Linked DNA regions of Homo sapiens: all the other regions are linked to region 1. The links come from fine-mapping of genetic effects on gene expression. A gene starts in region 1. Each other region holds a variant in brackets. All regions are shown on one strand. Distances are from middle to middle.

What was found. PIP is the estimated chance that this variant, and not a neighbour inherited with it, causes the effect. A credible set is the group of variants that fine-mapping cannot tell apart.
Region 2: its variant is the best candidate, but not a certain one, in a credible set for the expression of LINC03033 in whole blood (INTERVAL, PIP 0.61).
Region 3: its variant is the best candidate, but not a certain one, in a credible set for the expression of LINC03033 in lung (TOPMed, PIP 0.76).
Region 4: its variant is the best candidate, but not a certain one, in a credible set for the expression of LINC03033 in whole blood (TOPMed, PIP 0.72).

Annotation. Positions count from the first base shown.
Region 1 is chr14:61,567,883-61,573,629 of GRCh38, reverse strand. LINC03033 (long intergenic non-protein coding RNA 3033) reads right to left here and starts at 3,090. Exons shown (of 3, transcript NR_039985.1): 1 at 2,870-3,090. It overlaps LINC01303 (long intergenic non-protein coding RNA 1303), which reads left to right and starts at 2,977. Exons shown (of 5, transcript NR_110416.1): 1 at 2,977-3,144; 2 at 3,953-4,086. RefSeq lists silencers at 3,800-3,992, 4,733-4,892, 4,973-5,042 and enhancers at 4,384-4,883, 4,884-5,385.
Region 2 is chr14:61,640,560-61,646,306 of GRCh38, reverse strand. The region is part of intron 1 of LINC03033 (long intergenic non-protein coding RNA 3033); the gene reads right to left. Among named protein-coding and RNA genes, the nearest start is that of HIF1A, 52 kb to the left of the region's middle. The variant G/C (reference allele first, on the strand shown) is at 2,350.
Region 3 is chr14:61,536,543-61,542,289 of GRCh38, reverse strand. All of the region lies in intron 12 of PRKCH (protein kinase C eta), which reads right to left. PRKCH-AS2 (PRKCH antisense RNA 2) reads left to right here. Exons shown (of 3, transcript NR_188139.1): 3 at 4,384-5,747. Among named protein-coding and RNA genes, the nearest start is that of PRKCH-AS2, 6.1 kb to the left of the region's middle. RefSeq lists an enhancer at 3,792-4,991. The variant G/T (reference allele first, on the strand shown) is at 2,121.
Region 4 is chr14:61,651,346-61,657,092 of GRCh38, reverse strand. It overlaps LINC03033 (long intergenic non-protein coding RNA 3033), which reads right to left. Exons shown (of 3, transcript NR_039985.1): 3 at 2,380-3,470. Among named protein-coding and RNA genes, the nearest start is that of HIF1A, 41 kb to the left of the region's middle. The variant T/AT (reference allele first, on the strand shown) is at 2,499.

The sequences.
Region 1 (5,747 bases):
GATAGTAATAGAGTGGCCCAGATTCAAATGCCTGAACGGTGAGTTTTACCAGGGCCCCCACGCCATTCAGTAAGCTCTCTGGGATTTTCAGTGGGCCTGGGGAGGTATAACTCACTTTGGCTCAGAGCTCTGAAAGCAGAACTTGGGTGGTTTATTAGAATATACAATGGAAGAGTTGGATGAGACCTGAGTAATGATGTTTTTGTTCACCGCTTGTCTCATCAGAGCAATCTTCTGGACACATAAATTTAATGTTCTCATCCTCTGCTTAAAACAGCCTTCCACTGTTCCAAAATAAAAGCCAAAGTCTTCAAAACTGTGTGCACATGTGATCCAGCCCCTGCCTACCTCTTTATATCTTGGTTTTCCTCGTCCCCTTTAATCCAGCCACAAGGACTTTACTCCAGTTCCTCCAATGAACTAACTCTTTGTATCCTGGGCACTCTCTAACCCCTCTTCACTTTTTTTTTTTTTTTTTTTTGAGACAGAGTCTCACTCTGTCGCCTAGGCTGGAGTGCAGTGGTGCGATCTTGGCTCACCGAAACCTCCGCCTCCTGGGTTCAAGCAGTTCTCCTGCCTCAGCCTCCCAAGTAGCTGGGATTACAGGCACCCTGCCACCACACCCAGCTAATTTTTCTGTATTTTTAGTAGACATGATGTTTCACCATGTTGGCCAGGATGGTTTCGAACTCTTGACCTCAAGTGATCCATCTGCCTCGGCCTCCCAAAGTGCTAAGATTACAGGTGTGAGCCACTGCACCTGGCCCCCTCTGTACTTTTTAATTTTTATTCTTCTTTCAACGCTCAGCTCAAATGTCACTTCCCCTAAGAAGCGTTCCCTGAGGCTTCCCCTCCCCATACACGTTAGATCAGATAAAGCTCTTGTAATATTCTTGTAGAACATCCTATTCTTTTGCTTCAGGGCCTTTATCACAATTGATAATTATATACTTACTTTTACTTATTGAATTAATTCCCAGTCTCTCTCAGTAGATTACATGCAGTGTCTGTTTCACTTGCCATTGTATCTCTAATGCCTACTACAAGTGCCTGGCATGTAGCAGACACAACTGCTTGTGAATGAATGAATGGTCTCAGTGATTCTGTAAGGATGAAGGTGATGTAGAGTAGTAGATGGCAGCTCTACTCTGGAAGTCCAGAATACTGCTCTGATTCACACCTGCAAGCCTTATTGGTCAATGACTACTGATATTCCAGCCACCCAAACAACTGCTTTCGGAGAAGCATTAATACCTGCGAATAAAACAAATCTATTCGTTTCATACATTTGGTTCAGAACACTAGGAGAATTTGAGAAGAGACGAGCCAGCCCCAAGCTGTCCTTGTTTCTTTTATTAAGAATAGGCCATGATTTGAGCACATTCTACTACTTGCCTCACTTCAGCCTATTGATGGGGGAAAAGTGAGAGTCTGTGTGTGGGGACTCTGGCTTGGCAGTGAGATCTAACACAGAAAGATCCTGAAGAAATATGCTGACAATGGGGTTTTATCTCTTCAATGCACTGGAGACAAAATCCCTGCTTTTAAAAACAACACTCATACAGAGCCAAGGATGTCCCAGAGTGAACAGTCCTAACCCTTTCTCAGCCTGCCTAAGAGCTCGTTGGTTTCAGAAGGATGAGCCAAGGACTGCTACTTAGAGACTACTGTCTAGGTCAACCCAACTGGCATAAGTAAAGCACCTACTGTTTATAGTAGGAGGCTGCAAGATAACAGGAGATGCAGACTATTGAAGGCTACTGATCTATCTGTGTAGACAGGCAAGAATAAAACAACTGGAGAAGAAATCCAGGATTACACAAAAAGAAGAGCGTGATGGTATGGTAGACTACTCCAGAACAGTGAATTTCCCCTGCATTAAGGATGAGATCCCTATGAATTGGGATCATTCAGGAAGTCTTCTTGGAGAAGAAAAGTTTGAGCATATGGGGAAAAAAAGTTGGATTGGCAAAGAGCTGAGCTGTCAGTAGCTGGGTCCTTAGTAAGTAGGCTGCATGGAGCTGGGAGTTATGCTAAAGGAGTTGTAATTTGGGATGCCTCTAATTAACCATTTTGGGAAAAATATAATAAATCCCTTTGTAGCATCTATAATAAACTGCCCAATATCTATGTGGTGGGGAAAAAGTTTTATTCTACGTTTCACGTGGATGGTGATAACACTAGGTAATCTCAGCATCTTTCTTATTCTCTTGCTAATCCAGGATTCTAAGTAATAATCACTTTGTTCTACAACCTGAATCTAGCCCTTGTACTGTGCAGTTTTTTTCTACACTTATTTTTCCTGTTGTCTGAATCAATCTCCATGGAAGCATAAGTTTTACTGAGTTTCAACCAGCTGTGTCCACCGAGGTAAAGATGGTAAAAATAAAAGGCACAGGGCATATATACCACAGCAGCAGTTACTTCCCACAAGGAACCAGAGATTGGAAGTGAAGCTAAAACATTTTCAGCTACGATAGCATCTCTTTCAAGGTGAGCCATTTCCCCAGGGAGAGTTTCCAGCTCTTAGCAAAGGCAGAACAATAAAACATCAAGGATGTCTTTCTAAGGCTGCAAACAGAATAGCCAATACCTTGAAGCTGATCTGCTTCAGAGTCCTTTAAAAGCCAGGACAGCAACAAAGTGCCCACATTACATTTTCTACAAGCTTGCTAAGCATCTCTTTTCCTAAACCACAAAACCCGAGACATTTCTACAGAACAGGCAGAAAGGGAAGTCCTGGGAGATCAGGGCCCTGTCTCAGCAGGCATCACTCCAGCCTGTCTTTTCCCGAGTGGTTTTCTGCACTTCTCTTCCATCTTTTCCCCTCTGTCCCACACTGGAAGTCACTAGTCTGTGCCCTCCTTACCTCCCATGGTTTCTGCACCTTCATTTCCAAAGGCAAGTGAAAACAGTGCCAGGCTGCGCACATGGGTTACTCCAGGGACTTCTCTTCCCGTTTCCCCTAAAGCATTTGACAGTTAGATCTTGGAACTGAGTCCAGCAGCACTGAGGTCAGAGAGATGGCTAAAGCTAAAAGCAAACTGGATGCTGTTCAGGAGGTTCTCCTTTGTCATTTTTATCTCCAAATAGAAGACCTCTGTTTTCCCAGAAGATTAAATAGTAGAAAAGAAGTAGCCCAAGGTGGGTGACTCTGCAAACAGGTGGGTGAGGTCTCTAGTTGAGTGAGGGGGTGTCTGTGGGTTGTGGGTTCTTCTTATGAGCAGAGCTTGGAGGAATTTGTTCTATTTGTTGTGGTTTTCCCAGGGGGAAGTCGGGGGTGGCTGGGACTCTAATGATCATTATCAGAAGACTTTGGATTAGGCCTCTGAAACTTTAAGATGTGGATCCTCTCGCAATCATGTTAAAATGCAGATCTCCTTTCAATAGGTCTGGGACAGAGCCTGGCTTTTCTATAAAGCTTCTGGTGATGGGATGTCGCTGGTTCTCAGCCACAATTTGAGTAGCAAGAGGTTAGCTTTTCTACTTACTGCCTTCATATCCCCAGTTGGGCTATGTCGTTTTATCAAAACAATGTGGTAAGAGTGAGCGCCAATTACTAGCCTGTTGAATCATCCATTGTTAGAGCTGTTTCTTTGAGGTACATTTAAGAGGCCCCTCCCTGTGGTTCCCCATTGCACAAGAAGCCCATTTGCCAGGCAATACCTTGGGCAAGCAAGCCACTGTGCAAAATTGCATTGGCTCTTCCTGCTGCCAGCCAGGCGGCTGCTGGTTGACGTTGGAGTTGTACAGTTTATGTGATAGTGATGACAGCGCTGGCTCTGAAGGGTACTGAAGATTTTGAAGGGGTACTTCGCTGCAGCAGCTTCACCTCTCACTTTTGTTTACCCACCCCCGAGGCTTGTGGGAGAGAAGGATCAGGCAGAGCTCTGCACGTGCCATGCCAGGGGTGGAGGAATTATATTTTTATTTTTTGCTTTCTCTGCTACAGGACATACCATGCCTTTTACAGATATTTATAGGACAATTTCCCTCCTGAGAGTGCCCAAGCATGGGGGATGGTGAGGAAGATGACTGAAGGAGAAAGCAGGAAAAGGGGGTGTCTGCATGTATGAGGATTGGAAGGTGGGGAAAACCCTTCGTGTTTGGTTCAGCCTTCAAGAAAGAGGAGGGGTTGACTAGATTACAGATGTTAAACCAGGGGTCTGTGGTTCAAACCAGCAACTCTCTGCCCTTGTAAGCTGTATCTGGCTGGTGTGTTAATTTGTCTAGGGTAAGAGCCCCTAGGTTTCAACAGATTGTCCTAGAGTCAATGATACACAAAAGGTTAATCAGCCTCATTTCCAATCAGGATCATCTGCAAGTCCCTCCCAGAGCAGATATTTGGAGCACTAGGCTTCTAGAAGCAGCAGACATCAAGTTCGGGCCATGGGATTAGGGTGGACAGGGCAGCCACTTGGAATCATTTTCTACCAGAGGCAGAAGAGGCTCAGCTAGCAACAGCCCCATTTTACAGAGCAGAAGCCGAGCTGCAGTCAATTCAGTGATTCCTCCTAAAGTAGGGAGTCAGAAGCCGAGCCTGGACTGGAACCTCGGCCTCCTAGCACACAGAGCACAGGTCTACATTGGGGAAAAGCCCCTTCAATCTGGCAGTTGCCTGGAAAGCGCAAGACATTTGCGGCCAGAGCGCCAGGAGCCCAGCTGGTTATTTCTAGCTTCCTGAATGTCAAAAATACAGGCCGCTTCTCAAAGCAGCCTCCACTTGTCAGACCAAATCAAGGCATCAGCGCGTCAAGCAGGCGAATCCTCTGCCCCAGGCACCAGCCTGGGGGCGCACGCCCTGCCTCCGCCCCGCCCCACACGGCGCACCTGACCGGTTCCCGCGGTGCGCCTAACCGCGGGCGGGCGAGCGCTGCACCCACGCACCCGGGCGTCGCTCCCACCTGCACCCCGGCGTCACGCCTGAGCGCAATCTGCAGCCTTCACCCACCTGGGCGGCTGCCTGGCTTTGTTTAGAGTTGGAGTCAGCCCGGCAGCCTGCCTTGGCCGAGTGTGACTAGGGAGCTGGTCTCTGACCCTAGCGGCAGATTGGGCAGGACACACTGCCTTCTCTCTGGTCTCTTTTGGAATCTCCCACTTTCACCTGCTTTTCTTCTTAGCAAAACTGCCACCCCTGCCCCTACCCCAATTCCTCGATAGATCTAAATCAACGGGCTTGTTTGTGCCTCTGCAGAACCAATCCAGTTTTACAGGAACAAAAACAAACCCCAGTCCTGAGCGTCTGTTGGTTTCCCGTCCCAACTTCTGTTCATTCAACAAACATGGGAGCATCTACTGGCTAGGCTTTGGACACAACAGACTGAACTCTACCCCAGGGAACTGGCAGCCCCCAGGGGAAAAGAGAAGCGGATGTTTTTAGGCTGTAATTTAACGGTCGCAGGAGAGTTTGCTAGGGAACATGGGGGCAGGGAATGAGCATTGCAGGCAGAGAGGACAGGCTGGTGAAAGAACACCGCAGGCGGTAGGATCTGCAGGAAGGCAGGGTGGCCGGTGGGCACAGAGAGATGAGGGCAAGTAGCAGTGATGGGCTGAGGAGGAGCCAGGACTCAGCCAGAGAAAGGAGAATTGACTTCATCCTGAGAACAATGCAGGGCCTTGGAAGGTTTAAACAGGGAAGTGACCAATCCAATTTGCTTTCTTAGTGGGACTGGAGAGCGCAAGGCCTGTCAGTCCCAGCACAGGGGCAGCAAGCGGCAGCACCGCTGAAAGTAGCAGCATTTTCAAGG
Region 2 (5,747 bases), 73 kb before region 1:
TGCTAATTGTGACCTAATGTCTTTACTAGAGAAGAATAATATGAAAATTCATCTAGTGTTCTGTTTATAACTCTAATGCAAAAGATAGTTCTCTATTAGTTGAGTCAAATGTTTGTATCTCGATTACAGGCATCAGAACTTTGAGGTCTTTACTGACCTACACTCCTATCAAGACAAAAAAAAAGGAAGAAGTGTGGCATTTATTTGTCCATTAGTTCATTCATTCATTCTGCAAATATTCAGCATTTACCTTGTACGTGGCATTGAATTTGGCCCGAAGAACAGATAACCTAATGGTGTTTGGAGAATTGAAATAGTTATACTGCAAGTAATCTAATTGATTAAATCTTCTTATTTAAAGTTGAAGACTGAGGCAAATTAAAGCAGCCAAACAATTTTGGCTAGTTTTACCCATGCACTCTCGTTATGTCCATACCCACCTTCCACTAAACTTCTCTTGTCATTCTTCCCTATTTTCTAACCATTATTATAACTCCAACAGATATATTGTCATTTGCATTTATATACAATTAAGTTGGTCAATGATCCTAATCCATTCACTTCAACTACATAAGTACAATGTTAGTGAAATAAATGTGTCATTTAAAAATGAGGTCTGATCATACCATAAGACAGGGCAAAAAGGAAAATAAAGAAAATGAGGTCTAAGGTTAAAATATTTCATTAAAAAACATCAAAACTGAACACAGAAATGATCACAATAGAAGCAGACAGCCATTCCTTAGAACCTCTTTCTACTGTCTATTTCCTGAAATGGTTTTTCTCTAGTTTATTTCATTTTGTATCACAGATGACTATTTGGTTTAGTGTGTCTAATTCCTCTGCAATTAGATTTGCAGAACATATTACTTCATTTTAATAAAAAGTTTTTGAATCACAGCCAAATTGCTGTAGGACAAGCAGATTTTGTTTTCTTACAATTTCATTAGTAAAAAAAAAATGAGGATACCAATATTGAAATGTCACAAATATGGAATTTTAAGTCAAACATCTGTGTTCCCTTAAAGGAGAATATCTTTTCTGAAGCTTGGGAGCCTCCATTAGTGAACAAATTAGTTAAACAGACATTTGCAATGAAAAAAAAAAATCCCATCAGTTTTGTTGAATTATTTTTGTTTTATTATGGGTTTATTTCATTATTAAAAGTAGAAAAAATGCATAAAATAATAGAAGAATAAGAAATAAAACAATTACTTGAGGCTGTACTAGGCAAATGATTCTGATGTGCTTCACTGAACACAGGATGTAACCTGAGCCCCTGTCCCTGGCTTGACAGAGCATCTGTTTCTCACAGATGCCTGAAAAACACCCTGCTCCTCTAGATGCTGGGGCGCTTTTCTGAGCATTGCATTACCTTTATCAAAGAGTGCAAACACGTATTCTATTTGTAAGGGATGGATGAATGTAGATGGTTGTGTTGTGCATACCATCTATATCCTTCTATGTATATATGCTCTTGTACCCAAAAGAAAAGTCACACTTAATTCATGGTCCATGGCTGTACAAACAACAAGAAATACCACATCTAGTACTGCAAAAAAGCAAGTGGAAGAACCAGTATCTCTTATTTAGATATACTGTAGTAGTAAAAGAGAACATACCCAGTACAAAGGAAGGGGCATCTGCTTTTCTTAGTTCTGGGGATTGCTATGTTTAATAACTTCAGAGGAACACTGATGAGGTGGAAGGCAAGTGCATGTCTCTTTTTTCCCCCTACTGCATACAGAGCCCTGGTACAGAGCACTCAGTGGATGCTCATAAATATTTGTTGAGTGAATGAAAGGAGAACAACTAGAATTGTGATGCATTTCTAAAACAGGACTAAAACAGGCCATGTGGTTAAAGTAAATGAAGATACTTAGCCAGAGAGGAGGAGACTTAGGGAGCACAACAGTTCTCTTTGTATTTGAAATAAATTTTCACATAGAGGAAGGGCTAGACTCACTCTGAGTGACCTAGGGAACAAAATAAGCAACTGTATAAAGAGGAACATGAAATTAGAGCTGCCCCAAATGGAAGAGTAACCACTGGAATAACTCTTGTTAACCATTCTAATTCTTACCTAGTTTCTACATCTTCCTGTCACCAAAGTTGCTCATTCATTCACCCATTCATTCAAAAACACATATTTACATGGGTGAACACATCTCCAAACTCATCAAACTGTATACATTAAATATGTACAGCTTTTTGTATGACAATCATATCTCAATAAAGTAGTTTTAACAACAGCCACCACCACCAAAAGTCCCCCCAAAAAATACATATTGAGAACCTTCATGCTTACAGGTACTCTATCAGGTTCTGGGGAAATAACTGTGAACCCAA[G/C]AAACGTGGCCTCTTTTCTCATTCAGTTTATAAGCTGGTGAAGGAAACAGACAAGACAGTCAGACAAATCCTTTACAAATGATCATGCAACTTTGGTTTCAGTAAAGTCAGTTGCTTAAATCAAAGTTGCATGATCATTTGTAAAGGATACCAAAAAGGGAAATCCTGAATCATGTGTAAGGGCTAGACAGGATGATCTCACTAGTCTTTCCAACTGTTGAGATTCCTAGGATACTATGCTTTCTCCCTGCATTCTCATCTCAGTAAGTTGTCCCGTGATGACACCCAGAAGTCATTATGTTCAACCTCATCCTCCTCATCTCTACTTTCAAGTCACTAGTGACTCCTGATCATTCTAATTCTAGTTCCCACGCTCATCACAAGGTTGTCCTCATGGTGGCTGGCTGACACCTCCTGAGTCCGCATCTCCGGTCTAGTAGTGTGCAACTCATAAAGTGCAGCACTCCATGAGATCCTAATGCAGTTGGTTTGCTGATCATAGGTTCAGAAATAAGATTCTTCTGTGTGATGGGTTGAATGGTGGTCCCCACACAGATATATCCATGTCCAAATCCCTGGAAACTGTGAATGCTACCTTACTTGGAAAAAGTCTCTGCAGATGTAATTAAGGATCTTGAGATGAGATCTTCCTGGATTCCCCAGTGGGCCTTAACTCCAGTCCCAAGTGTCCCTCTAAGAGACAGAAGAGGACACAACAAACACACAGAGGAGAAGGCAATATGAAGATGGAGTCAGAGAATGAATGGATGTGGCCACGAGCCAAGGAAGCCAAGGACTGGCAATAGCCACCAGAGGCTTGAAAAGGCAAGGAAGGATTCTCCCCTGTAGCCTCCAGGAGGAGTGTGATGATACCTTGATTTCAGACTTCTGGTCTCTATAATGATGAGAAAATAATTTTTCTGTTGTTTTAAGCCTCTTAGTTTGTGGCAATTTGTTTAGAAGCCCTAAAATACTAACCCATTATGCCTCCCACCATCCAATACAAACAGTTCATCACAGTGCTATCAGGGGGATCTTGCTAAACGTGAATCTGACCAACATATACTCCCGCTTTAAACCCCTTGTCTCTCTGCAACCCGTAGGCAGCACTCCCTTTCCTTGCCATGATGCCATGAAAGACTGTTCACTTGTATGACACACTTCCCTCGGGGGACACAGGTGATGCTCAACTCATAGCATGATGAAGTCAATGCCTCTGTCCCTCCCACTCAAGAATTCATATGAGAATGGAACTGATGAAACTTTTACAGGGATAGATACTCTAATTTAATTTAAACAAAATAAAAACAGAAAAGAAATCATCTTCAGTCTGCTCCTGCTGTTAGGTTACTTGGAACACACCTCCATGCATCGTGCTCCACTGACTGCTGCCCTGCCTTCCTCTCCAGCTGCCTCCTAGAGCACGTTTTGCTTCAGCAGTGCTGACTCACATTTAGTGCCTAGGACACATGGTAGTCATTTGTGTGTCTTTGCCTTTGCACGTCTTGTTCCCTTTGCTTGGAATGCCCTTCCCACACATAGCCACCTCACAAACTCCTATTCATCTCATAAAGCCAAATTCGTATTCCATTTACTCCAGGAAGCCTTTTTGCCCACTTACATTTTGATCATTCCCTTTCTTATGCAACGATCTTACTGTTTATAAAATATAAAGTTTTATTTTATTACATCATATTGTAATTCTTTGTTTATGTATCCATTTCTTTGAAAGCCAGGCCATATTAAACTCATTTTATTCAGCCTTAAAGAAAAGAAAAAAAGAAGAATGGGTGTGGATGGGTGTGGAGGACATGCTGAGTGAAATATGCCAGACACAGAAAGAAAAATATTGCATGATCTCACGTATATGTGGATTAGTTTTAAAAAGAGGTCTCATATACAGAAACAGTGAGTAAAATAGTGGTTACTATGGGCAAGGGGAGGAGAGGAAATGCAGTGATATGGGTCAAAGGATATAAAGTAGCAGATATAAACAAATCTAGAAATCTAATGTATAACATGAGGACTATAGTCAATAAAACTTACATTAGGGGTCAGGTGCGGGGCTCACCCAGCACTTTGGGAGGCCGAGGTGGGTGGATACTTGAGGCCAGGAGATCGAGACCAGCCTGCCCAACATGGTGAAACCCAGTCTCCACTAAAAATACAAAAATTAGCTGGGCTGTAATCCCACCTACTTGAGAGGCTGAGGCACAAGAATCATTTGAACCCGGGAGGTGAGGTTGCAGTGAGCTAAGATCGCACTATTGCACTCCAGCCTGGGCGATGGAGTGAGACTCTTTCTCAACAAACAAACAAACAAAAAGCTTGTATTAGGGATTTTTGTTAAATAAGTGTATTTTGGCTGCTCTTGTCACACACACACAAAAGCAACTCTGTGAGATGATAGATATGTTAATCTGCTTTATCACAGAAACCACTTTCCTGTCTATGTGTACCATAACATCATGTTATAAACCTCAAATGTACACAAGAAAATTTATTTTTAAAAAGATGAATAAACTCATCTTGGTATTCTGAGTGCTTAGCATATAGAAGAAACCCATCACCATTCTATTGAATGATATTGATCCAGAATTTATGCTCTGGAATTGGTGAGCATGTTTGAGGATTCTGATACTTTTTTTTGCAATAAAAATAACATGAATATTAATATTTAATGAAAATTTTCATGATTTTAGGAGACAGGCTTGTGAGAGGTTTGTAGAGAAGGTGAAAAAAATGCATTCATTCCTTGGGGAACTCAATTATTAGGCAGCCACACTGGGTTTCATAGAAATGATTTGAGAACTGGAAACATAATGATCTCCTTCATCCAGTTCTGGTGATAAAATTGAAAGGGGATATTTTTATTCTCCACAAGGAGAAACACAAGTAGTTTTGAGAACAAGCCAGCATTTTGTCTTCACTTGCACCTGCAGATGTGTCCCGCACCCGGGTCCTTCTAAGGTGCCACCTGCCAATGCCTCTTCACACAGCTTTCTCAGCCCTGCCAGCATAGTCCCTTTTCTTCAGCAACAGAGAAGGGCATTGTGGCTCAGGGTTCCCTTGGGAATGGGTGTTTGGAATAAAAATAACGCCACAATACCATTTCCACAAGTGCTCTACATGGCTTTAAAGAAAGCCTCTTGGTAAAAGTGTTTCCATCCCTGTCCTGAAGCTGGGATTCTGCCTGAGCTATTTTCGGCCTTGTTTCCAGTTGCCGCTGGCCAGTGGCAGGATTTCACACTCGGCTGCCACATCTCATTACTGCCCATTGCGCCCTTTTTCGGGAAAGCTTCTCCTCCCAGGCTGACACAGGTGGGAGGCAGGCGGGAGAGATGTTGCCCCTCCTTGCTCCTGCTGGATGCTATGGCCGTCTGGTGTATCTGCCTTTG
Region 3 (5,747 bases), 31 kb after region 1:
ATGGAGTCTCGCTCTTGCTGTCTAGGCTGGAGTGCAATGGTGCACAATTTTGGCTCACTGCAACCTCCCCCTCCCAGGTTCAAGCAATTCTCCTTCCTCAGCCTCCCGAGTAGCTGGGATTACAGGTGTGCACCACCACGCCCGACTAATTTTTGTATTTTTAGTAGAGACGGGGTTTCACCATGTTGGCCAGCCTGGTTTTGAACTCCTGACCTCAAGTGATCCGCCTGCCTCGGCCTCCCAAAGTGCTGGGATTACAGGTGTGAGCCACCACGCCCGGCCTACAAACAATAGGTTTTAATGTGCAACTATATCTGCATTAACAATAGGACAGAGAAACTAAATGCAGCAAGATGGGTGCAGTGGAGCAGCTTCTTTGCAAATCTGGTGTCAGGTATGGTGCTTATCACATCTTGTGGGCACACAGGAGGCAGCTTCAGTTTTGAGTTGTTGGATGTTCCAGATTATAGAGTTTAACGCTGTGTCATTATGAGTCTTGAAATAACTGGGCCCAAATGTACTTTACTCACTAAAATATAAGTAATGGCCACAAGTATTTTTTTCCTCTTTCAAAATCTGTCTGATTTCATAGGAAGAGGACAAGTTATATAAATAAAGCAATTAGTCTAATAAGATTTTCTTCCAGGAGCCAGAGAACACTGTATTTTCTGCCTAATGGTTGGATGTGGCTGTTGGGCAAACAAAATGACCTTCTCCATTCATTCAATTTCAGACCTTAAACAAAGGGCAGAGAGAGAGTTAGCAGCTAATGCTGGCAAGTTAGAAGGCAAGGAAACTATGCCACAGAACCTTCCTGCCAATATTCCAGAGCGATGATCCTAAATGGGGAAAAGGCATTTAATGGCTCTAGAGAGGGTCCTGGGGAGAAAGGGCAGAGAAAGAGCACAGGACACAGAATAGAGTGCGGTTCACAGCCATGACGCCCAACCTCGCCATGACCATAGACCCTAATGGCCACCTGGGGCTGACGAGAAGCACACCACGCATGCGTGTTGCAGGCGCGTGTCTGTCTGAAGGATGCTGCTGGCACACGCAGATTCTGACCCAGTTATGAAGACCAACCTTCTCCTTTTATACCCCTCCTGCCAGCTGTTGGGGAGATCTGGAGACACCCCGTGCTAGCAGCACCCTCCAGCTCAGGGCAGTGGTCATGCAGGGATGTGGCTGCACAGTATGGGAGAGACACCAGGCTTGGACCTGGCATTGATAAGTCACTTTTCCATAGGAGAAGGCAGTGACAGACATTTAAATGCAAGATGGGGCTGATGACAGTCCACTGGGGGTGGGATGGGGCTTGGTAGGGTGGAAAGGACAGACAACAGACTTCCTGAATCTCTCTGGGGAAACAAACTGTAATCTTCCCAAGTCTAGGTTCTTATACCGAATGGTGCTGCTATGGAATACTGGACGAGCCAAGAGAAGGAGAGGTGCTCTATCCTGCTAAGATTGGATCTGGATGGAATTTGCTGGGGAGGGCTGGAACTAGTTACCTGCACACTCATGGCAATGGACCACCCTGCCAGGTATCCAGACTGGTTTGAGAAGGGGGAAGCTGCAGGAGTGGAGAGAGTAGAGAATGATACCGTTTGATACAAGTTACAGCTTAAGAAGTGGTAGCCATTACTACCATATATGTATGCTGCATACTCCTTTGTTGCATAGGCATTAAGTGTTCCAAATTCATTGGATATAATCCTTAAAGCAACTGTGGTTATTATTCCTAATTTAAAGATTAGGAAACTGAGAAACAGACCCATCTGTAACCTGTCACACAGTTTGGGAGTGCTACAGTCAGGATTTGAACTCAGGCCTTTGCTCTCAGTCCCTACGCTAGACTTCCCCTTGAGGCTACCAATCTTCTTATTTGGATTCTGGGTTAAGATACTTGGACCGACAGGTGAGGAGAATCATTACACAGTTTACTTTACTTTCACCTAATAAATGACACTCAGGACTTCATCTGATGAGAATTCACGCACTCTGTGTGTTTCCTTGTGTTGTACTTCTTTGCTGGCTCATGTGACATTCTTTTTCCTCTGATTCTATGGAAGGAGAAGGGCTGAGAAGTACATACAGTGCAGGTGGTAAGTGAAGGGAAA[G/T]AAAAGTAATAGGGCTGGAAAAAATCCGAGGCATCCTTCAGCCTGACACCTGGTTTTATTTCAAACTACTGAGGGTCTTTTTGCTGGAAAAGATAGAAGGACACTTAAAATTTTCAAATACTCAAAGAGCTGTCGGCCAGAAGAGGGATTAGATGAGAAATAATTTCAGGGAGAAATAAGTTCAGGGAGTGGAAGTTAAAGGCAGCATATCTAAATACATCATAAGAAAAACTAAAACACGTAATGTGGTTGTAATACTCAGTACCATTAAGTGATGAGAGTGCTCCCTGGCAGGAACAGCATTGTGTCATTGAAAACACGTGAAGCAGAGCCGGACTGGCCTGTCCGGCGTCAGGTGGGTGGGTGGCCACACCAGTGGCCTCCACAGTCTGTGCCCATATCAAGGGACTCTTTTCTTTCTTCTATTTTTGCATTTATCACTAAAAACTCTGGGAGGAAAAAAAAAAAGCTGGCATTTTGAAGATTGTCCTTCCCTCAGCTACAGATGCTTTGTTTTCCTTGAGTCTGAAATGGGCTTTTCTTTATTAAAAATAAAGTGAAATAAACTTGCTCAAGCTGATCTCCCTGAGCCAGTGATGGAGGAAGTGGGCATGTGGGTATATTTGAGAATGCCGGTGGGTCAGTGCCTTACCTGGCAGGTTGTAACTGACCAGCATCAGAATATTCTGTGCGATATCTCCAGAGACACACTACACAGTGTACTTTATTTTCTCTCGATGAAACTCAGTACACTAAATGCCCTATACTGTTCCTCTAGCGGGCAGGGGCAGTGCTCAAATCCGTGGTGGGTTTGCTGGCTGTGTTTTCCATGCTGTCTGTGACTGGAATCCAGCAGCCCTTCATAAGCACATACTCAATTCCTTTCCAAGGCTCCCAACACCCTGCCTTTCCTGGGTTTTATAATCATTATTGCTTCCTTGTATCTTCTTTCTGGTCATGGGACAATGTTGATTAACCGTAGGTAAAGGTTAGAGGCAAGTCTCGGAGATGGAAACCCAAGGTCATGCAGTTGTGCCAATGCCCGTTGTTAGACAACATGCTTCTATTCCTGACAAACCAGTCTCAAGCAGCTCTGACTGATGGGGCGGATTTCAATGCTCTCCAATGACTTCCAAGTGTTAAGAAAAAGCTGCTGCTACCCTACATGCCCAAGCTATACGAACTACTTTTTTCCAGGTATGATTCCCCAAATGTAGCTACTGAAGAGAAGTGAGTGCTGAACAAAGATTCTCTAGTGGGGACTATACAATGTCCTTTATCCTCCTCTGATGAAATCAAGGCCAGTACCCTTCTTTATCCTGGATGCGCATTATCTTTGGCATCCAAACCAAATCTAATGATCAACTGCCCCAAATTACTGACCTTTGATAGTTGGCAAGGACAAACAAACAAAAAACAACAAAGTCAAATACTTTTGTTGACAAGAGTTTTTCTAACTCGAAACAAAAAGCTTTTCTGACCCACAGACACCGGTTAGCAAATCTCCACACAGGAAAAGTTTCCGTGGTCATTTTACAAAAGCTTTGACATCTTTATCTTCCTGGCAGGGATGGAGATAAATGAGACATGCAGCATGAGTACTCTATTAAAAATACATTTTAAAAAATCCTTTACACTGCTATCAAAATGTAAGGACTTCCAACCTTAGGAAACTTACAATTTAATGAGGGAAAAAGAAGTAGAGATCAAGAACTTTAGTAAAATTATATGACTTAAAAAGACCCAAATACAAAATCTCTGGGAAGAGCAGTGTTTTTCTGTTTTCTGCAGACACTGGCCTTGATCTGTGAGCAAACGGTTCCTTTTCTGAAGGGTGTTAACCTCACTAGGGGTTTTGGTAAGAGGCCTGTGGGGCACCTTCCTTTCCTCAGACAGGTATTCCAGTCCTGGCAACAGTCTGCCAGGTTGCATGTTAACCACTCCTCTTACTCAAGGATCTTTTGATAACTTTCTTTGGATTTCCCCTAACAGTGTTTGAAAAACCAGCCCTAATGATCTGGGGTTGGATCCTCTGCGTTACTCGGGTCCCATTTTTCCCTCCTCTTCCCCAGCCTTCTCCTGGCTGACCACCTTTGCTGGCTTCCTTGAACATTCCAGCCTCTCCCAGGAGGGGAGTAGGGAAATGAACAGGAAGACAGTCAATGCTCCTGGAATTCACTGCCTGGTGACAGATGTGGGACACACTCAGGGCTAAAAGAGGATCCCCGAATTAACTGTGGTTCTCCCTCCTTTGTGCGTACAGGCAAACAGGATTCCTGCAGACAATGCTCGGATGATGAAATCTGAGAGGCTGGATGACAGAGAAACCCACATGCATACACACACACTTTATAAAGCTTAGGAACAAAAGCACTTTATAATCTCCTTCTGATGCCAAGTTTACAGTGCTTCCAGAGTCAACAAAGGTGACTCAGGAGAGTGCACCCAGCTCCTTTCAGCACTTATTTAGCTCAGCCACCTGTGTGAGCTCAAAGACAAGGGTGCCGACTTCACCTGAGTAGACCCTGAGTCACGTGATTTCTTGCTGGAGATGATTCAGCAAAGGAGCACTAACCTCTGAGACAAGGCTTCAGCTTCCTGAGCTCTGCTGACTCGCCTGGGACTTCCCTAAGCCCTTCTGGACCTAGATGAGGGCAAAACTCAGTGGAACCTCAGAAGCCCTAAAAAAATGATAGACTTTCTTTTGTCTCATCATTATCAGCATTTTGGGATGATTTAGTCAGCCTAAGAAACCTGATGGCATGTTGACACCAGAAAACAGGTAGTATATATTCCCAAACCAAGTTAAAAAAAATTAAGAAATAACAGCTGGAATGCCTTTTATTTTTTCTTTACACAAATGTGTGTGTCATCGTCATATGCCTTTTTTGTGTTAATTTCTGAGGATCCTGCCAGTGTGAATACTCCATTCTCTGCGAGTCGCAGGTCAGGCTGCTTTTGAGGCAAGCACACGTTAAGTATTGAGCAGAAACATTTGAAGCAAAGATGAGAAAGACAGAAGGGGAAGCAAGAAAAATAGTCTTCCCAGTGTGCCTATTTGGGTGCATATAAAGTTACTTTTAGATGTGCGATTACTGGTTAATGATTTGGGGAATTCTTTTCAAGTAGAAATCCTGGGCTAAAAACTAAGTGTGCTCAAGCTACCCCCGCACCCACTGATTCTGCACTCCATGGGAAAAGTTCTCACAAGCAAGTCCTTTGTCCACTACCCACGTCTATAGGAAATGTTTGAACAGCTATACACAAAGAACTCACAAGTCCACAACCTCGGGGGTGTTGCGGGTGGAGAGGGCAGTGGTAAAGGTGATGACAGGGAGGGCCTGTGGGGACAGTAATATTAGATTAGTGGTCAGAAGATGCTGGAGCCTGCCTTGCCAGTCACACACTTTTAGAGGAATGCTGGACAGTACACACCCTCCCCAACCCTGAATGTAGGCCCTCGCTGACATCACGCCAGATGAAGCCCTGAGGTCTTTAACATCTGTAACTCTATGGCATGTAACATAAACAGGTGTCTGACCAGTTTCCCCAGATATAGAATAATAATAATACCTTTCATTTAAAAAGGTAAGAGGGAATTCAACAAGCTTTCCTTCTTAAATAAAT
Region 4 (5,747 bases), 83 kb before region 1:
TATTGAAGAATTCAAATTGCATCTGCAAAGTAGGTATTATAGAACACACTCTTGTAAGCCATCACTGCCAAAACTAATGTTTTTGTTTGTGAAAGAAGTTCATTTAAGAAGGACCTCCATTTCAATTAGTATCATATAAAAAACAAACTGGCAGGCAAATTAAGAAACAACTGAGAGCTGGGCGTGGTGGCTCAGGCCTGTAATCCCAGCACTTTGGGAGGCTGAGGTGGGTGGATTACCTGAGGTCAGAAGTTCAAGACCAGCCTGGTCAATGTAGTGAAACCTTGCCTCTGCAAAACATACAAAAAATTAGCCAGGTGTGGTGGTGGCCACCTGTAATCCCAGCTACTCGGGAGGCTGAGGCAGGAGAATAGCTTGAACCCAGGAGGCGGAGGTTGCAGTGAACTGAAGTCGCACCATTGCACTCCAGCCTGGGCGACAGAGCGATACTCTGTCAAAACAAACAAACAAACAAAAAAAGAGAAACAACTAGGGGAAAAACCAGTAAAACTACCTAGATGATATCAATGGGAAATCACTGCCAGAATCTATGTGGTTAACAGGCAGGATATAGCTCTATGACCAGTCCTTGTACTAACAATGATACCTGTTATTTCTTCTGAACAGAATCTGAATTAAAGCTCTCAAAAAGCAGCCATTTTACTTGAAGGTGGGAGTATCACTGACTAGTGATCCAGATTAATTTATAGCTAGATTAACTAGGTTGTGATCATCTTAGAAAGCAGGAATAAGTCTCTAATAGGTTTGGATTCATCTTTAGGGTGTTCAGGTATAGGTGGGATGGATTAGAACTGTGTTTCCCAAACTTAAGTCACTTGCCAATTACTTTTATGATTTTTGCCACTTCTGATCATGTACCACTTTTTGACATTTCTTATGTCATATTTTTCTTTAAGATGATTTAATTTGAAACTTAAATACATTTGTTTTAAAAAAGACTTTATCACTCCTGTAAACAGGAAACCAGCATAACTTGCTATAAACAGAGAGGAATTGTGTGCTGGGTGCGGTGGCTCATGTCTGTAATACCAGCACTTTGGGAAGCCAAGGTGGGAGGATTGCTTGAGCCCGGAAGTATGAGACCAGCCTGGGCAACATAGCAAGACCCCATCTCTACAAAAAGTAAAAAATTAGCTGGAGGTGGTGCTGCATGCCTACAGTCCCAGCTACTTGAGGGGCTGCGGGGGGAGGATCCCACCTCCTGAGTCCAGGAGTTAGAGGCTGCAGTGAGCTGTGATGGTGTCACTGCACTCAGCCTGGGCAACAGAGTGAGACCCTATATCAAAAAAGAAAAGATAGTAATTGTGAAAATAAAAAAAATAAAAACCAACGTTATTATATTTTAGTTAAATACCATCCTCTCAGAAGGCTGTGATCCCAAAGTCTGCTGTCTTTTTGTTGAAAAATAGAGTAGTGAACACCAGAAGTGTTAAGTATGTGCTAATATCAAACTAAGACTCTTCTCCTGAGTCAATCAAAAGAACTGAAGAAAACTGGAAAAGGAAAAACCTGTCTCCCTCCATGTCGTCTCCTGCTGTTCTCCGCTGCCTCATCCCGGGCTAGCTCCAGGGTCCTCTGTGCTGTTCTGTTCCGCCAATTCACTGACTCCACTCCTGTCTCATTACCTTCACACTTGTGGTTTCCTCCTACCAGATAGATAAGTTTTCCCCCAGATCCTTACAGAGTTCCATCGCTCACTGGTCTCTACTCAAAGGCTGTTTCTACTTTTCTTTTCTTACTTTCTTTCTTTCTTTTTTTTTTTGTTTTTTGAGACGGGGTCTGGCTCTGTTGACCAGGCTCGAGTGCAGTGGTGCAATCTCAGCTTACTGCAACCTCTGCCTCCTGGGTTCAAGCGATTCTCCTGCCTCAGCCTCTGGTGTAGCTGGATTACAGGTGCCTGCCACCATACCCGGCTAATTTTTGTATTTTTAGTAGAGACGGGGTTTCACCATGTTGGTCAGGCTGGTCTCGAACTCCTGACCTCAGGTGATCCGCCTGCCTCAGCCTCCCAAAGTGCTGGGATTACAGGCATGAGCCACTGCCCCCGGCCAAATGCTGCTTTTTCTGATAGGTGTTCCCTGACTGACCACAGTCAGTAAAATAGCTCCTCCATTCATTCATTCATTCATTCATTCATTTATTCATTCTGGGTGAACTTCCATTGCAGTCCATCTATTTGGCTTCCTTCCTTGTCTTACCCTGTTTTTTTCTGAATGGCAGGATTCTCTTTGCTATACAGCCAATCAAAAAATATAATTTATTCTTCTCCTGTTAGTTAAATAATATTGTTTGGTTTATAGGTAGGGTTAATTTTTATTTAAAAAACATGTAGGTGTAAAAATTACAGAAGAATATACAAAACACTTTAACCATTTAATCTTCAGGTAGTAGGAGTTGTGGTGATTTTTATTTCCTTTGTTATACTTTTCTGAATTGACTGATTTTATTCCCAGTAAATTCAGTTTAAGATGACAAAA[T/AT]CTCTGTTTTTTGTAGTTATAAACTTGTACTAGTCATAAACATGTGCTAGCTCCAAGTGAAAAAATTAGTGCTGTTCAACATAAATTCTCAGGATATTATACTCGAGAGCCAGTAGGAATAAGGGCAAAGAAACAAGCGTTAAGGCAAGTAAATTAGATGATGAGAGAAAACCTAGTCTACAAAGTTACCATTTAAATCTTGAACTCCGGACAGCTATTTCATAAATGGTTTTCTTTGGTCATACAAGGTGACCATGGGTCATATAAGGTAATGTTAAAATCACAAGTCAGGGTTTCTGTCTGACTGCTGGTGGGTCAGATATCTTCCCCTCCCATGAAAGAAAAGTCATTCTTTAGTGTTAATAATCTTGTCATGTCTGTAGAAATGAGCACTTCCTCTTCCACCACCAAGCTCCCCACCCCAAATTCTGCTTGGGACATTATACTGCAGGCTAATGATCTAAACAAAATTAAGATTCATTAAATTAACAATTCCATTGTTCCTAATTAAGATTTTACTTTGCACTTAAGATATTGAACCATACATAGCCCTGTGTATATTTTTAATGCAAGCAAATATTAATGAAGCAAATTTGTCATTTTCATTTGTGTATTTTGGACAAAGGTTTGTTTATACTCAGTGAAATGATAATTTTTTCTGGTAATTTCTCCTTTTCCCAGCAAAGAATGCTTAATCTCCTTTCTGAAAATGATTTGATTTGGGCAGCAAATCCTACGTTGAGAATTCTTCCCAGATCTCAAGTTATATAACTGAACAGATGGTATTCGCATGGCTTTGACAGGTCAGGCTGCTATCACAGGACATCCTGAGGAAGCAGCTCGGAAGCCTTCCCGAGGAGAGTGGGAAGATCCCGTGAGCAAGCAGGCACGTGTGGCTGTGGGATTGGGTGAAGAACTGCACTCTGACTCAGCTTCCCATCTTCATGGCCCAGGAGCAAATTCCTCAGGATCCTGAAAGAGGTACAAATAATCCTGCAGAAACTAGTGGTACATTTGATTGAATCAGAAAAATAAACAAATCTTTCCTGTGGGAGAAAACAAAGTCTCTCAGGGAATGTGATACAGGAAGAGTGATTTGGTTTGTGGTCATGGTTGAAGTGCCACAGGTAGATGGACAGTGAATTGGATGTGTTCTAATTGTACCTTGGGCTTGCAGCATGATGGGGCAAAAATGGGAAAAATATCCCTGTCTTCACAGAGTTTGCAGCTTATTGGGAGAGAAAAAAATCACTCAGTCAATAAATACATGAACAAACACACACATGAGAGTGATAAGTGCCAAGGAGAAAAAAAAATGCTGAGAAGGGGGATACAGAGATATGTGTATAAAATTTTAGATAGAAATCCTCTTTTAAAAAAGATGTCATTTGAGTAAAGAAAGACCTGAAGGAAATGAGAGAGAAAACCATGTATATAGCAGGGAAAGAGAACTCCAGTAAGCAGAAACAGCCAATGCAAACGCCCTGAGCCAGGGAAATGCCCGGAGTGTCCAGGGACCCATAAAAATCCCCATGCGGCTAACGCAGAGCACACTGGGGAAGCAGTGTGCAAGATGAGGTTTGAAAGCCAGTGTGAGGTCAGATCATACAGAGTCTTGAAGTTCACAGCCTGGAATTGCCTTTTCATCTAAGTGAGATGGAAAACAGGAGGGTCTGGAGCAGACAAATGACATAATTTGGATTATTGTTTACTGGGATCGCTCTTTGTAGGAAATAGGTTGTGGGGCAGCAAGGGCAGAGGCAAGGGGCAGGGCAGTGAGGGGCAGGGAAGAAGCATCTAGAAGGCTATTGAGATAATTCAGGCAAGAGAGGAAGGTGGATTGGACCAGGATGGTGGCAGTCTAAGCAGCAAGAAGTGGGTAAATTCTGGATATATTTTGAAGGTAGAATCAACAGGTCTGGTTAATGGATTAGATGCATTGTATGAGAAAAAAAAAGAGAAGTTTAGGGTTATTCCAAAGTTTGGGGGCTACACAACTGGAAGGATGGAGTAGATCTGAGAAGCTTAATAAGAAGGAGGAGAATGTGGGAAGGGCAGGTTTGGAGGATATCAGGACATCTGTTTGGAATATATTATGTTTGAGATGTTGAGTGGGCAATTGAATGCACAAGTCTGATGTGCCAAGGAGAGATTTGGGCTGAAAATATAAATGAGACAGTCATCAGTACAGACAGGGCATTTAAAGCCATGAGGCTCCATGAGTTCACCTAGTGATGGATACTGTGTACAGAAACCAAAAGAATATGCAGAGAGTGATATTCTGTATGGAATGCTGCTGGTAAGTACAATGAGGCAAGCTGAGCATTGGGTTTAGCCATATGCAAGTCATCATTGATCTTTATAAGAGCAGCTTTTTAGAATCTAGGGCAAAAGGTTTGCTGGACTGGGTTCAAGAGAGAATGCAGACATTGGACACAGCGAGCAAAGACACTCCATTCAAAAACATTTGCTTTACAGGGAAGAGGAGAGATAGTGGTAGTTGGATGGGAAGACGGGATCAAGAGAGGATTTAAAAATTTTTTTAATTGAAGAACTATATATATGGTAAAGATGCTTACTGCTTGTGTATCGCTCTATAATTTTCACAACCAAACACACCCAAGTAACTAGTACTCATTTCAAGAAAAATAATAGTGCTAGTCCCCAAGAAGTCTCCTGCCTCCTCCCTCTCAATCACTGTCCCCACCCAAGGGCAACAACTATCTTGAACTGACTTCTAAAACCCAATTCATTTTCCCACTTTTGTACTTTGCATAAATGAAATCATACAGTTCATGCTCTTCTGCATCTGTTTTTTTTGCCAGTATGTTACATTTGCAATATTCATCTATATTGTTGCCTGTAATTACGGTTTGATCATTCTTATTGCTATATAATAATCTATTGTGTGAGTATACCAAGATTTATTGATCCCTTCTACTGTTGCCAGGCAAATGGGTATTTTCCAGTTTTACAAATAGTGCTACTATGAGCATTCTAGTACATGTCGTTTGGTGAGCATACGTACACACTTTACTGGGTATATTTCTGTGAGTGGAATTGCTGGGGCATAGAGAATGCATATATTCAGGTTTAGTTTTCCAAAATGGCTATATCGATTTATGCTCCCACTAGCACTGTAAGGGAGACTTTATCAGTAATAGAGGTGATATTATAACATCTTCATCTGTTACTCCTTTGTCTTATATCTTAATTTTTTGAGAATTAAGGGGATGAAGAGGGGTAGTG